Linked DNA regions of Homo sapiens. The protein of the gene in region 1 interacts with the protein of each later gene in a pairwise test. Each region holds a gene or a part of one and is shown on either strand. Other genes may lie near its edges.

Region 1 (7,740 bases):
ACTGAAATCACCTGGGGAGCTTGAAATACTGAGGCCTGGGCTGTACCCCCAGAGATTCTGATTAACTGGTCTAAGGCCTAGGCACAGGGATTTTGGTTTTTTGTTTGGAGACAGGGTCTCACTCTGTCACACAGCTGGAGTGCAGTGGCACAATCTCAGCTCACTGCAACCTCCGCCTCCTGGGTGTAAGAGATTCTCCTGCCTCAGCCTCCCATGTAGCTGAGATTACAGGCATACACCACCACGCCTGGCTAATTTTTGTATTTTTAGTAAGGACGGGATCTCAGAATATTGGCCAGGCTGGTCTTGAACTCCTGGCCTCAAGTGATCCGCCTGTCTCGGCCTCCCAAAGTGCTGGGATTGCAGGCGTGAGCCACCGCGCCCAGCTGGCACAGGGATATTTAAAAGTATCCTATGCCCCCATGCCAGTGATTCTAATGTGAATGGTTGAGAACTACTGCTTTAAGACAATCTTTCCAAATTATAATCTTGACAGGTTTAACAATGACAATAAAACATCAACAGTAAAGAACTAGTTTAAGAATGTGACAAGGCACTGAACCTAATATAATACCAGGGAGTCAAGACAATGAGAGGAAACTCATACTGAGGGTGGGATATCAACTGGTGGAATCCTTCAGAGAATATGGCAGTAAGAATCAAAGGTTTATATTCATAGGCTTGATCTAGTGATATGCATTTAGAATCTCAGACTTAGTCTAAGAAAAATCTGAAAAACACACAAAGATTCGGGTACATGGATATTAACCTAACTGCCAACAATAGATTGGTTAAAAAAAATAGGAATATCATATAGCCATAAAAAAATCATGTTTTTGCTGAAAATTAAAAGGCACAGGACAATGCTTACAACTTATAAAGGGAAAAGAGCACTTGCAAAATGGAACTAATCAGTTCTTTACTTGGATCCATATACTGTTTCAGGTAGTTGATGATATATCACAAATGACATGTATCATTGTTTGTGTACACATATATACACACACAGATACACATATTCATACATATATACATACATATATACACACACACACACACGAGAGAAAGAGACAGGAAGGGAGAAAGAGAGCGGGAGATTTCTTTTGGGAAGAGGTTTCAAAAATTTCATGAGACTCTCAAAACATATCTCTCAAACAGGCTGAAGAACCATAGTACACACTAAGACCCCTATTTTGAAATAAATGAATAAGTACTAACATTTACTGAGCTCTTCAAATGTAAAACACAGGCAGGGTGCAGTGGCTCACGCCTGTAATCCCAACACTTTGGGAGGCAGAGGCAGGAGGATCACTTTGAGCCCAGGAGTTAGAGACCAGACTGGGCAACATAGGAAGACCCCCATCTCTACCAAAAAAAAAAAAAAAAATTAGCTGAGTGTGGTGGTCTGCACCTGTAGTCCAGCTACTCGGGAGGTTAAGGTGGGAGGACTGCTTGGGCCGGGGAGGTCAATGCTACAGTGAGCCATGATCACACCACTGCACTCCAGCCTAAGCAACAGAGCAAGATCTTGTCTCCAAAAAACAAAATAAAATAAAACAAAAACATGTAAAAGGCACTATGCTAAACATACATACTTACTCCAATCCTCAGAACAGTATTAAATAGGTACCAATACAGTTTTTCTCATTTTACAAATCCTTTGTCACATTTCTATAAGGGTCACTGTTTTTATTTATTCTAAAATTGTAATCTTTTGAAAGATCATATACCCTTTGTCCCAATTCTACTTCTGAGAATTTATTCTAAGGAAACAATCAAGAAAGTTCAGGACAAATTTAGCTTCATGTTGTCCATTTATTCTACCGTTGTTCATCACAGAAAAATAAATGGAAACCACTTAAATAGCTATTAATAAGAAATCAGTTAAATAAAGAATACTACCAAACAAACTAGTATGTACCCATTTAAATAAAAAATATTTAAAGATACTGAAGATAAAAGTTAGACAGGAAAGAACAAATTTTAACTCTGCTACTTACTGTACAATTTTACACAATTTAACTTATCACTTAAGTCTGTTTCTCTTCTGTAAAACTGGAAAAATACACAACTTCCCAGGGTTGTTATGAAGATTCCACAAGACATCATTCATAAAAGCACTAGTCTTCCTAGACTTCCGAATTAGCTGAGATACTCTCTGAAGAAATAATACTGAGGCTGAGATCTGAAGGGTGAGTGAAGGTGCAATAGCCCATTCCAGGCAGGGCCATCGATGAGTGAAGATCTGCTTAAAAGACCACTTAGGTGACTACCCCAGATGGATAGATCTCAAGGCCAAGGATGGTAAGAGTGGCGACAGTGACAACAGACAGACATTTAGAAGTAGCATCTATAGGACTTGATTATTGACTGCATGTCGGGGAGTTGAGAAGAGGGAGATGTCAAGGATGATTTCCAGGTTTTGGGCAGGCACAACAGGATGTATGGTGGTGCCATCTACAGAGTTGGGGGTTCCTGGAGGAAGAGCAGGTGTGGGCTGTGGGGAAGTGGAAATGCTCAGTTTGGAACTTGCTGAGCTTGAAATACATATGAGCTATCCAAGTGGAGGCACGGTTAGCAGATTTGTGGGTCTGGAGCTCAGAAGAAAGGTCTAACTTAGAGATAAAATTTTAGGAGAACGCATAGGGTGTAAAGCGTCCCTGAAGAGCACCACCATTTAGGATAGGGATTGGAGAACCTTGCTGAGCAATGAGACAGGAGAGAAACCAGGGGAGGGAAATACCACGGGAACTAGGGGAATATAATATCCGAAGAAAGTTGCGCCTGTCCCAGGTTAAGCCCTTCTTGCAAGGCTTCAAAAACGCCGAAGTCTCTCAAAATACTTTCACACAGAGAAGTAGCAGGGGGTGCGTGTCCAAGGTGGCCGAGGCGGGGTGCACACTTGTGTAGGGCACTTTCCCCCCGGCCCAGCGCGGAGACAGGCGAACTGGAGAGCCGCCCTGCCCACGCAGCTCGCAGCTGCCATCTTGGACCCCGGCAGGACCAGCTCCTTTCAGGCGCTGTGAAGCCCGCTCGTGGCGGCTGCCAAAGTCCGGGGAAAAACACAGGGGTCGGTGACGAGCAGAGATACTCACCATGTCCGCGACGTGGCGGTGACACGGGCGCTGACGCCTGCCCAAAAGTTCCGGGGGCCGGCCCTGAAGTGGTGTCACCGCACGGCCCAGGGGCGGGGCCCGGGCGGACCAACTACAACTCCCGACATGCTCGGCGGCATGACGTCACGGAGCGTACCACACCGCAGTCCCTCGCGGACGGCGAGGCGGGGCGGGTAGCCGAAGACTTATGTTTGGTAAATTCTATTAGTTAAGTCTTTTCTGTCCTACAGAAGCTCACACATCCTTCTGTGTGTTCTTCGATGCGGATTCGAATCTCCTCGTATCCTCCCACAGCGTGCTTGGAATGGATTCTCCCGTACCCGGGGCAACACATCACACAATAAACGCCAGCTGTGGTGGAACGTGCAGAGGCGCTGCGCAGCCCAGGCGTGTCGCGCGCTTGGGAACCCTCGCCGCTCCCGCAGCGCAGTTAACGTGGACAAGCTGGGGCAACCTGGACGAGCTGGGGCAACCTGATCTCGGCTGTCGGAGTGGGTGTCCTCAAGAAAGGTGACTTGGTCCTCGCGGACGCCAGGTGTTGCCCCTTAGATACCTGCCACCTCCCAGCCTCCGTTTCCTCTCTGGGAAACAGACTCCTCATCACCTCCTCCAGTTTTCTGCCCCTTCTTCACCTCTCCTGACGCTCCATCCGTACCTTTTGCAAGGGAACGTGCCATAATTCGGCTATGCTCTATTTTCTTGTCTAATAGATTGTAAGCTCCTTGCGGGCAGCATCTATGCCTTCTTAAATCTGTTTCTAGTTTCTACCAGCAAGCTTGCCCCGAAGGGGATTGCAGAATATCTGTTAAATAAGTGAATGAATAATTTTGTAAATGTTGCTCAATAAGAGTTAAGTAGTGGCGGGCCGGGCGCGGTGGCTGACGCCTGTAATCCCAGCACTTTGGGAGGCCAAGGCAGACGCATCACCTGCGCTCACGAGTTCGAGGCCAGCCTGGGCAAAATGGTGAAACCCCTGTCTCTACTAAAAATACCAAAAAAAAAAAAAAAAAAAAAAAAAAAAAAAAAAAATAGCCGGGCATGGTGGCGGGTGCTTGTAGTCCCAGCTACTCGGGAGGCTGAGACAGGAGAATCGCTTGAACCCGGGAGGCGGAGGCTGCAGAGAGCCAAGACAGCTCCACTGCACTCCTAGCCTGGGCAACAGAGAGAGACTCCGTCTCAAAAAAAAAAAAAAATTAATAAGAAAAAAGTTAAGTGATGGGAAAGTTCTAGGCAAGAATTTCTTCCCTCCCTCCTCCCTGGCTCGCTTGTGTGCCGGGAGCTGCGCAGATGCGGGGATACCGTGAGAGGGAGGAACCTGTCTCAGCTCCTGCCCTTGTGCCGTGGAGCTTTGAAATATAAGGTAAATGAAAGTACTAAATCTTGACTGAAGTTTGGTTTTAAAGCATCTCTGATTAATGGAAGAGGTAGGATGTGGGGAAGGGCGTTGTATTTAGTTATGTTTCAGTTTAAAATGAATCTTCACTTGCCCCTTTGGTGTTACGTATTAGCAATGATTCATGCTCAGGTGAGCCAGTTTCAGGCAGGCTTGCAGAGAGGCACTCAAACAGCTTGCTTTAAATTTAAGGTAAAAGGCCGGGCGCGGTGGCTCACGCCTGAAATCCCAGCACTTTAGGAGGCCGAGGCAGGTGAATCACTTGAGGTCAGGAGTTTGAGACCAGCCTGACCAACATGGTGAAACCCCGTTTCTACTAAAAATACAAAAATCAGCCGGGCGTGGTGGCAGGTGCCCGTAGTCCCAGCTACCTGGGAGGCTGCGGCAGGAGAATTCCTTGAACCCAGGAGGCGGAGGTTGCAGTGAGCTGAGATAGCGCCTCTGCATTCCAGCCTGGGCGACAGAGCGAGACTCCATCTTAATAAGCAAAGAAATAAATAAATTTAAGGTAAAAGGTTCTTACCAGCCGGGCGCGGTGGCCCACTCCTGTAATCCCAGCACTTTGGGAAGCCGAGGCAGGTGGATCACCTGAGGTCAGGAGTTCAAGACCAGCCTGGCCAACATGGTGAAACCCCGTCTCTACTAAAAAATACAAAGTTAGCTGGGCGTGGTGGCAGACGCCTGTAATCCCAGCTACTTGGGAGGCTGAGGCAGAAGAATCGCTTGAACCTGGGAAGCGGAGGTTGCAGTGAGCCGAGATCGCGCTATTGCACTCCATCCTGGGCTACAAGAGCGAAACTCTGTCTCAAAAAAAAAAAAAAAATGGTTCTTACTTTGGATTACAAACTGTGAGGACTAACCCAATGTTTGTTTTCTTCACTTATGTATGCCCAGTGCTTAGCTCATAATTGGTGCTTTAAAAACTTTAGAATGGGATAGAGGTAAGTATTCTTAGCTCCTTGGGCCTCTTCCTTTTTAAAAATAACATGTCTACTATTAGAAATTAATTTCTGGCCGGGCGCGGTGGCTCATGCCTGTAATCCCAGCGCTTTGGGAGGCCGAGGTGGGTGGATCACTTGAGGCCAGGAGTTCGAGACCAGCCTGGCCAACATAGTTAAACCCTGTCTCTACTAAAAATACAAAAACAGCTGGGCATGGTGGCGCGTGTCTGTAATCCAGCTACTCAGGTGGCTGAGGCAGGAGAATCGCTTGAACCTGGGAGGCGGAGGTTATAGTGAGCCAAGAACATGCCACTGCACTCCAGCCTGGGACTGTCTAAAAAAAAAAAAAACAACAACAACAACAAAAAAAAAAGAGACTCTGTCTTAAAACAATTAATTTCTAAATAAAGAGTTGCATGTTTAATATTTCACCTTTGTTTGAAGTGGTCATTTCCAAAGAAAGCTCAGAGTTGAAGTATACCTGTTAACAAATACTCAGAATTCATTGTAGAATTTTTGTTTTTGTTCTCGTTTTTATCTTGCCTAAATAATTGTTCTCTTCCCCATTCCCTTTATAATTTTGCCAGTGACACACTTATTATGTTTATTTAAACTTGAAAAAAACCTCAAGAGTTGTAGGGTAATACCTCAATGTGTTGTACATCCTGAAAAGCTGTTATATTTTCAACATAAGGGACAATGCAGGATGCTGAAATCATTGTATTTAAACTGTAAAAATGTCTGCCTTATATAATTATGATTTTAAAATCTACCCTGAACTTCTCAAAAGAAGGATTTGTTTATAATACACCGTACAGTAATAATTTTATCATTTCCAACAGATAAATGGCAGTGTAATCGATGAGATCTTGTACATTCCTTTGTAATTTGTGAGCACTTCATACGGAGAGTCAAGGGGGAGGGCTCATCTGGAGAATTTTGAATCCCAGTATTCTCCCCCACCCCGCAGAGTAGGTTCTTTCCCCATGGAGTATGAGGCTATTGTTTTGTAGTAAACCTTAAACTCTCAGACTGAAAGTAATTAGAACTGGAAATTAGTAACCACTTTTTTCTAAACTTTTCCCCTTTATTTTTATTTTCAATGTAAAGTAGGACTTTGCTATAAAACACGTGACCCTAGGGAAACTTTTGAAGTTAGCGGTATAGAGAGTACCACCACCAGACGCCACCATGCCTGCGGAAGGAGGAAAAACGGACATGGAAAGGATTGGCCTCTTTAGTGAGATGGAATATATTACTGTGGGTGATAAATATGTGTCACAATTTAATCGTAAGTATATTTGCTTTTCTCTATGGACGAATAGTGGGTATTTTCTATATAAAATTTAGAATTTAATATTTAAGTCAAATGATTTTTTAATGGTTTATATTTTAAAGCATTTAGTTCTAAAGTTTGTTAACGTGTAAAATTTCAATGAAGTTAAGCGATATCATTTATTTATTTATTTAGAAACAGGATCTTTGTTACCCAGGCTGGAGTGCCAGTGGCCTGATTATAGCTCACTGCAGTCTCAAACTCCTGGGCTCAAGGGTTCCTCCCATCTTCAGCCTCCTGAGTCTACAGGCACACACTACCATGCCCAGCTAATTTTTAAATACTTTGTGGAGTAGGGCGGGGGAGCTCTCACTATGTTGCCCAGGCTGGTCTTGAACTCTTGACCTCAAGAGACCCTCCCCACTCAGCGTGCCGTAGTGCTGGGGTTAAGAGGCATGAGCCACAGCACCCAGCAAGAAGGTGATTTTATGAGAATAGGAATCTCGTTTTATTAGGGTATTCTATCCTAATTTATTGTCCTCATAGGTAATTTGATTTCTTTTCAAAGGTGCCTGGCAGTTTTCTCCCAGAATATTTTGGTTAGATGGGACACTCCCCTATGCAAACAGCATTTACATTTGCGTCCAAGAAGGCCATCCATTGTTACCTTCCTGAGAAATGAAATGCTAAGTGAATGGCTGAGGGATTTTTACAAAAGTCATAAATAATAAAAAGAGCTAATATACATAAATATTTAAATGTCTCAGTTCAATTTTTGGATATCCAATTACTTCTACATAATAATACAAAATAAAACACTGATTTGGAGATATCTCGAAGATACATTGTTAAATAAAAAAAGCAAGGTGCAGAATAGTCTATATAGTGTGCTCAGCATGAACAATGTGATTCTTCTGAGACAGCATTTAAAAAAATGAAAAAGGATATCTATGAAAATATTCACTTGAACATACCTGAACATTCTTTGGGAAACAAAATGATTATCTCTTTGCC
Region 2 (8,643 bases), on another chromosome or scaffold:
CACCATATCGACCATATCAGAGATGGCAGTCAGAGAAGACATCTATAAAGAGGGACATTAAAGCTGAGACCTGAATGTAAATTTAGAGAGCAAGACATGTGGACGTCGGGGAAGGGGAGAGCTTTCCAAGCACAGGGAACACCAGGTGCAAACGACCTGAAGTGTGGACCTTGACTTGTTCAAGGAAGAGCAAGCAAGTCAGCTTGGCTGGGTCGGAGTGATCAAGACCTGCAATGGAGGGAGATGAGCAATGGAGGGGGTAAGCCACAGGGCCTTACCAGCTCTGGATAGTATGCTAAGTGTAAGAAGCCATTAGAGAGTATGGGGATGATTCAAGGGAGAGTACTGAATTTTAGAGACCTGCGCCTCTCAGGACTCAGAGGCTTGGGGATGTTCCTGGCAATAAAATGGGCGCTGACAAGGCCTGAACCTCTAAGGGTGATTTGGGGAGATGCAGGCAAGAAATTCATCCCACGCTCCTGGCCAAACCTTAACTCGCAGGTGCTATTTTTGAACAGAGAAGAGTCACAGGCTCTGGAAGACACTTCCTTTAAAACAGAGCATGCTTTACCCTAGGCTGTGTGTGTACCTGTTTGTGTGTGTTACTTTTTATGCATTTGCACTGGATGGTAGAGGAGTTGTAGAAAGGACTTGGGCATGGCATGGTTTTTTTGCAGAGAGTGGTTCTAGCTGGGGAGAAGAACTAAAATGAGAAATTAGCCAGATATCTAGGAAATAGGACGAAGTCAGGAAACACTATTCCAAGTGTGACCTGAAGAACAAATCTCTTACTTTTAAAGGAGGAATGGGGGATTTGAGCATTGGGAGGAAGGAGGAAGGGGGTGGCTGGCACGTTGGAATGAGCTCTTCTCAGATCTTAGTGCAAATTGGGGCCCTTGAACCAGTAATCTACTCCGAGGGAGCCTTACATAAACAGAGGCCACATCATAGGAAAAAGGCATTTGATGATGGGAAGACACTTTCTCTGAAAGAGCTGAAGCAGCAGTGAGAAGTTCAGAAAGGGACGGTGAGACATATGCTGTGTCTACACTGATCAATATTATTCCTGGGATGCAAAGACAAGGATACCAGCCACATGACTGGGGACAGTTTGAGGTATAGAACACACCACCTTCATAAGAAAAGTCCAGGGAAGGTATTAGCTACTACAATCAAATAATGTGTTTGGTCTTTCCCCCAGTATGCCACTTAAAAAAGAATTTTTTTTTTTTTCCCGAGATGGAGTTTTGCTCTTGTTGCCCAGGCTGGAGTGCAATGGCGCGATCTCGGCTCACTGCAACCTCCGCCTCCCTGGTTCAAGTGATTCTCCTGCCTTGGCCTCCCAAGTAGCGGGATTACAGGCATGTGCTACCGTGCCCAGCTAATTTTGTATTTTTAATAGAGACGTTGTTTCTCCATGTTGGTCAGGCTGGTCTCAAACTCCCTACCTCAGGTGATCCGCCTGCCTTGACCTCCCAAAGTGCTGGGATTACAGGTGTGAGCCATCACACCTGACCTTAAAAAAGAATTCTAACAGATGAAGAACATAAAGGAGAAAATAAATTGTTACTTCAACTCCAAACTGATATCTATATTACCTTCTGCCCCATCACACTCACACTATTGCAATAGTCTTCTAACTGGTCTCCTTGCTTCCAGTCCAAAACCCATCACATGTCAAGTAAATGTGTCTAAAGCACTATTTTAGTCATATCTCTGTGCTATTCATAAATTCTCCAAAGATATTCCCTCTACCATAAAGAAAAACTTTCATTCCTTGAGCCTGGCATTCGAAGTCCTCTATAGTATAATAACACTTCAAATTTGCTTTCTGGTCTTACTGCAAATTGTTTACATAAATTTTTTGTAGCCTAACCAGTTTATTCATTATATTCCAGACACAAGTCTCTATAAAAGCTTTTAAATTCTGTTCATCAATAGGATTCAATCAACCTGGAATCTCCTCTTCTTTGTCGATCCAAAGTCTGCCCTTCTGGCCTGGCATGGTGGCTTACACCTGTAATCCCAGTACTTTGGGAGGCCGAGGCTAGTGGATCACTTGAGCCCAGGAGTTCAAGACCAGCCTGAGCAATAAAGCAAGACCTCATCTCTACAAAAAAATTAGCAGGGCTGGTGGCCCATGCCTGTTGTCCCAGCTACCCAGGAAGGTGAGGCGGGAGGATCTCTTGAGCCCAGGAGGTCAAGACAGCAGTGAGCAGTGATCACACCACTGTACTCCAGCCTAGGCAACAGGGCGAGTCTTAAAAAAAAAAAAAAAAAAATTTGGTTAGGCATGGTGGCTCATGCCTGTATTCCTAGTACTTTGAGAGACCAAGGGTGGAGAATTGCTTGAGCCCAGGAGTTCCAGACCAGCCTGGGCGAAGTAGTGAACCCACCCGCTAGTCTCTAAAAACAAAATAAGATAAAAATTTTTTTAGGTCTACACTTCTCTTAGAATCCAGCTCAAATCCTAGCTCAGCTGAAATTACTTCCTTCAGCCTGAAGTGTTCTTCCTCTCCCATGCATTTTTCTAACACTGACTGTGCACAAATTTATCAATTAGTTATAGTCAATTCATTTGTCAATTAGCACATTGTTCTCATGCTATCACGTCTGTTGTTACCTTAAACTGTTATTTAAACAGTTGTACTTTTACTTAACTTTTTTTTTATTTTTGTGAGACAGAGTCTTGCTCTGTTGCCCAGGCTGGAGTGCAGTGGCGTGATCTCAGGTCACTGCAACCTCCGCCTCCTGTGTTCAAGTGATCCTCCTGCCTCAGCCTCCCGAGTAGCTGGGACTACAGGCATGCGCCACCATGCCTGGCTAATTTTTGTATTTTTAGTACAGATAGGGTTTCACCATGTTGGCCAGGCTGGTCTCAAACCCTGGGCCTCAAGTGATCCACCCTCCTTGGACTCCCAAAGTGCTGGGATTACAGGTGTGAGCCACAGCGCCTGGCTACTTAATTTTTTATCATGGTGAAACAAACACTGATTTGGTTAAAGTCACTTGGAGATGTAAATATTTACTAATAATAAACCATCTTATTTAAGACTAATATATTAATCAATAATAGGGAAGTTTGAAAACACCCACAGATGCAAGAATCAGCAGGACACACACACACACACACACACACACACACACACACACACACACACACACACACCATTCTTGCATTGTTCAAGAATACTTGCCAAGCCCCCGGATCCATTTTACCTTTCTCAGAAGTCATGGTGCTCTGTCTCTGGACTTCCTCCTCTGGAGTCATAAGTTGTGCTGATTGTTCCTGGACTTTGTTGCTTCAGGTGTGCCCACTGCCACCTGCTTGGGCAGAGGATGACTCATTCCCGCATCTCAGGCAGTTATGGGAATCTGAGCTGTCTGTACAAACAGGGGGCCGACTGAGAGGGACATTATCGTGGGGATTTGCATCTTTAGTGATGAGAAAGCCTATGATGCAAATGACATGAATTTTGTAGGGTGGATCACTGGGTACCAAATTCCAAAGTTCTTCAATGACATCTGAATTTGGTAAACTTTCTCTTTCTTTAAATAAAGATTAAGGCAAGGTGGATCCATCATTCTTTTTTGTTTTGTTTTGTTTTATTTATTTATTTTTCATTATCTCCTACTCTGCATCAAGGATGCATCATTCTTTTTTTTTTTCTTTGAGACGGAGTTTTGCTCTTGTCGCCCAGGCTGGAGTGCAATGGCACAATCTTGGCTCACTGCAACCTCTGCCTCCCAGGTTCAAGCGATTCCCCTGCCTCAGCCTCCCGAGTAGCTGGGATTACAGGCGCCCAACACCACGCCCGGCTAATTTTTTGTATTTTTAGTAGAGACGGGGTTTCACCATGTTGGTCAGGCTGTTTTTGAACTCTTGACCTCAGGTGATCCACCCGCCTCGTCCTCCCAAAGTGCTGGGATTACAGGCATGAGCCACCGTGCCTAGCCTAGGATGCATCATTCTTTAATGGAGAGATGAGAGGAAAAATAAAGTTAAGAGAGACTTAATCTGTAACTATAGCTTGAAAATTTTTATGTTATCTGGTGAGCACACTGTGGCCTTGGCTTTCAGCTGTTATTCACCTATTTCCAACTTCCTCTCATTTTGCTCTCTGTCCTACATCCGTGTTGGAGAGGGGAGGGGAGCTATTAGATACAAAATGAGAAGGACCTTGGCCTCTGAGTCAGCTAATTTGTGTACAGGTCTTTGGTGCTCTCTTCATCCTTGAATCTAAGATTAAGTGTGTGGCCAAGTCCACTTCTGCCCTTTTTTTTTTTTTTTGAGACAGAGTTTCGCTCTTGTCACCCAGGCTGAAGTGCAATGGCGCGATCTCGGCTCACTGCAACCTCTGCCTCCCAGGTTCAAGTGATTCTCCTGCCTCAGCCTCCCAAGTAGCAGGGATTACAGGCACCCACCACCACACCAGGCTAATTTTTATATTTTTAGTAGAGACAGGGTTTCTCCATGTTGGCCAGGCTGGTCTCAAACTCCTGACCTCAGGTGATCCACCCGCCTCAGCTTCCCAAAATGCTAGGATTACAGGCGTGAGCCACCTCTCCCAGCCACTTCTGCTTTTTTATCCCCCTTGAAAAAGTAAATGCCATACTTCCCTATGCCATTGCTCTCTGTTGCCTGAACCCTGGGTCAAGTTCAAGCCAAAAATTCCTCTGAGTCTCAGCACTTACTCCTAGAATTGAGGTCACTTTTTCAAGGCCTAAGTCTCCCTCTAGTGTCTCAAATCTAGAACTCCTGAACTTTGAATCTCAAGGCCCCATGAACCTGAAACCCGAATCCTACATACAAGACTTTACTTAGTTATGAAAGTCAACCTGGAGCCTCCATGAGATAAAGCAGGTGTTTCGACAGGGGCAGACCAGTGTTTTGAAGAAGGGGCAGAAATCCCACATCATCAATAAAGGCCCTTCAGAGACCAAGTTTTTCTAAGTTAGGTAAGAGTAGAATCATTGTAGAATAAAAGTAGGTTAGGCCAGGCGCAGTGGCTCGCGCCTGTAATCCCAGCACTATGAGAGGCAGAGATGGGAGGATCACCTGAGGTCAGGAGTTCAAGACCACCCTGGCCAACATGGCAAAACCCAGTCTCCTAAAAATATAAAAGTCAGCTGGGTGTGGTGGCAGGTGACTGTAATCCCAGCTTCTCGGAAGGCTGAGGCATGAGAATTGCTCGAACCCAGGAGGGAAGTTTGCAGTTAGCCGAGATCTCACCATTGCACTGCAGCCTGGGCAACAGAGTGAGACTACGTCTAAAAAAAAAAAGAAAAAAAAAAAAAGGTAAGATAATAGCCATCAACGATATCCATGTCCTGATCCCTGGAATCTGTTAAACATATGAACTTAAGTGCCAAAAGGGTCTTTGTCGTTAATTAAAAATCTTGAGATGAGAAGACAATCCTGGATTATGCAGGTGGGCACAGTCTAATCACAGGGTCCTTATAAGAGGGAGGTAGAAGAGTCAGAGTCAGGATGCGAAATGGAGATATGAGGATGAGAGCAGAATTCTGCTTGCTGGCTCAAAGGGAGCCACGATTCAAGGAATGAGGAAAGCCTGTAGAAGCTGGAAAAGGCAAGGAATGGATTCTCCCCCAGAGCCTCCAGAAGAAATGCTACCCTGATGACACCTTGATGTCAGCTTAGTGAGACCTGTTTTGTACTTCAGACCTCCAGAACTATAAAACAATGTGTGTCGTTTTATACCATTAAGTCTGTGGCAATTTCATGAAGCGGCAATAGGAAACTGATATGGTAGGACATGCTCCCAGGAAGTAAACATGCAGCAGCCAAGAGGGTGCAAAACTTGGGTTTGTTTTCTACTAGAATGCCTATTGAGCGCTTCGTCCATGTTCTGTTTTGTTTAAGAAAACTTGGAACTATGACATATGACAGACTATCATGTGGTTAATTATTTGTAAGTGAGGTCAAAGATAATCAAGGATGAAATGTAGCTATTCAGTTTAAGTCTGTCCTGCACCTGAAAATTTATGAATTTTGAAAAATGTATACATACACTTATGTAACTACTCCAGTCAAGATATTTAAAATTCCCATCACCCCAAAAGTTCTTTTGTTTTTTTGTTTTTTTTTAAGACAGGGTCTTCCTCTATCGCCCAGGCTGGAGTGCAGTGGCTTGACCTTGGCTCACTGTAGCCTCAGCCCCCCGGGTTCAAGCCATTCTCATGTCTCAGCCTTGCAAGAAGTAGCTGGGATTACAGAGATGCACTACCATGCCCAGCTAATTTTTGTACTTTTAGTAGAGATGAGGTTTCACCGTGTTGGCCAGGCTGGTCTCGAACTCCTGACCTCAAGTGATCCACCCACCTTGGCCTCCCAAAGTGCTGGGATTACAGGTGTGAGCCACCATGCCTGGCCAGCACCCCCCAATTCTGTGTGTTAGCAGCTATCCTCCTACTCCTAGTCCCAGGCAAATACTGCTCTTTCTGTCTCTATAGTTTAGTTTTGACTATTATAGAACTTCATACAAATGGAATCATGCATTGTGCACACTTTTGTGTGTTCTTTTGCTCAGCTTTTCCTTTTTTTTTTTTTGAGACAGGGTCTCACTATACAACTTTTTGTATTTTTAGTAGAGACGGGGTTTCACCATGTTGGCCAGGCTGTTCTTCAGCTTTTCTGTAAAATCGGTCTACATGATTAGGTGTATTGGTGGTTAATTTTCATTGCTGAATAGTATTCCATTGCATAGGTATGCTACGATTTGTATATTCTTCTGTCGATGTGATGTACTTTGGGTTATTTCCAATTTTAGGCTTTCATGAATAAAGCTGCTGTGAACATTTGTATACAATTCTTTGTGTAAACATGTCTCTTTTTCTTCCTCTTGGGTAAATACCCAAGAGTGAAATTGCTGGATCAAATAGGTAAATGCACATTTAACTCTTTTTTAAAAAATTGATTTTATTTTTTATAGGGACAGGGTCTCACTATATTGCCCAAGTTGGTCTTGAACTCCTGGGTTTGAGAAATCCTCCTGCCTTGGCCTCCCCAAAGTTCTGGGATTACAGGTGTGAGCCACTACACCCAGCTACATTTAACTGAAGAAAATGCCAAATTGTTGTTACCAGTTTACATTTTCATCAGGTGTATAAGAGAGCCCCAATTGTTATACAACCTCATCAGTACTTAGTAATGTCAGCCCTGTTAGTTACAATCATACTTGTGAGTGTGTGGTAGTATCTCATTGTGATTTTAATTTGCATTAAAATTAAATGCAATGAACATCTTTTCATGTACTTATTAGTTATTTATATATCTTTTTTCTGAAACTTGTTCAAATTTTTTGTCTTCCCTCCCTACCTCGCCCACCTCCCACCCACCCTGGAGACAAAATTTTGCTCTTGTTGCCCAGGTTGGAGTACAATGGCCCCATCTTGGCTCACTGCAACCTCCTCCTCCCGGGTTCAGGTGATTCTCTTGTCACAGTCTCCCGAGTAGCTGGGATTACAGGCGTGTGCCACCATGCCTGGCTGATTTTTGCATTTTTAGTAGAGATGGGGTTTCATCATGTTGGTCAGGCTGGTCTCAAACTCCTGACCTCAGGTGATCCACCTGCCCCAGCCTCCCAAAGTGCTGGGATTACCAGGTGTGAGCCACCACACCTGGCCTTGTCCATTTTTTAATTGGGTTCTTTGTCTCATTACTGAGTTGTAAGAGTTTTTTACGTATTGTGGATACAAGCTTTGTCATATCTGTATACAAATGCTCCTCAGTTTACAATGAAGTCATGTCTCCATAATCCCATCATAATTGCAAAATATTGTTAAGTTGAAAATTCATTTAATACACCTAACCTGGCCGGGTGCAGTGGCTCATACCTGCAATCCCAGCACTTTGGGAGGCCAAGGCGGGTGGATCGCCTGAGGTCAGGAGTTCGAGACCAGTCTGACCAACATGGAGAAACCCCACCTCTACTAAAAATACAAAATTAGCCGGGTGTGGTGGCACATGCCTGTAATCCCAGCTACTCCAGAGGCTGAGGCAGGAGAATCACTTGAACCTGGGAGGCAGAGGTTGTGGTGAGCCGAGATCGTGCCATTGCACTCCAGCCTGGGCAAGAAGAGCAAAACTCTGTCTCAAAAAAAAAAAAAAAAAAAAATACACCTAACCTACCAAACATCATAGCCTAGCCTACCTTAAACATGCTGAGAACACTTATATTAGCCTACACTTAGGCAAAATCATCCAACACAAGACTATTTTTAAATGAAGTGCTTAACATTTCATTCAATTTATTGAATACTGCACTTAACAGGAAAAATCGAATGGCTGTATGGGTACTTGAAATACAATTTCTACTGAATGCATATCACCTGTACACCATTGTAAAACTGAAAAATTCTAAGTCATGCCATCATTAAACTGGGGACTGTCTGTATATATTTCCCTTAGTCTCTGGTTTGCTTTTTATTTTCCTTAATGGTGTCTTTTGAAGAGCAGAAGTTTAATGAAGTTTTAGTAAAGTTCAGTTTATATCGATTGGATTACTTTTTATGGTTAGTGCTTTTTGTCTATGAAATCATTGTCTACTCAAAAGGCACAAAGCTATTCTCCTATATTTTCTTCTGGTACTTATATATTTTTAGTTTTAGCTTTTACAATAA

The links. The genes of interacting proteins can lie anywhere in the genome.
Region 2: the proteins of UFSP2 (region 1) and APOBEC1 interact in binary tests that used the Homo sapiens proteins (3 or more experiments, as listed by UniProt).

Annotation. Positions count from the first base shown.
Region 1 is NC_000004.12:185,422,771-185,430,510, forward strand, and holds the start of UFSP2 (ufm1-specific protease 2), read right to left. Parts: upstream 3,195-7,740; 5' UTR 3,099-3,194; coding exon 3,096-3,098; intron 1-3,095. Other genes in the region: CFAP96 (cilia-and flagella-associated protein 96), read left to right, coding at 6,642-6,741. UniProt on the Homo sapiens protein: Thiol-dependent isopeptidase that specifically cleaves UFM1, a ubiquitin-like modifier protein, from conjugated proteins, such as CD274/PD-L1, CYB5R3, DDRGK1, MRE11, RPL26/uL24, TRIP4 and RPL26/uL24.
Region 2 is NC_000012.12:7,662,638-7,671,280, forward strand, and holds the start of APOBEC1 (C->U-editing enzyme APOBEC-1), read right to left. Parts: upstream 3,272-8,643; 5' UTR 3,236-3,271; coding exon 3,220-3,235; intron 1-3,219. UniProt on the Homo sapiens protein: Cytidine deaminase catalyzing the cytidine to uridine postranscriptional editing of a variety of mRNAs. Form complexes with cofactors that confer differential editing activity and selectivity.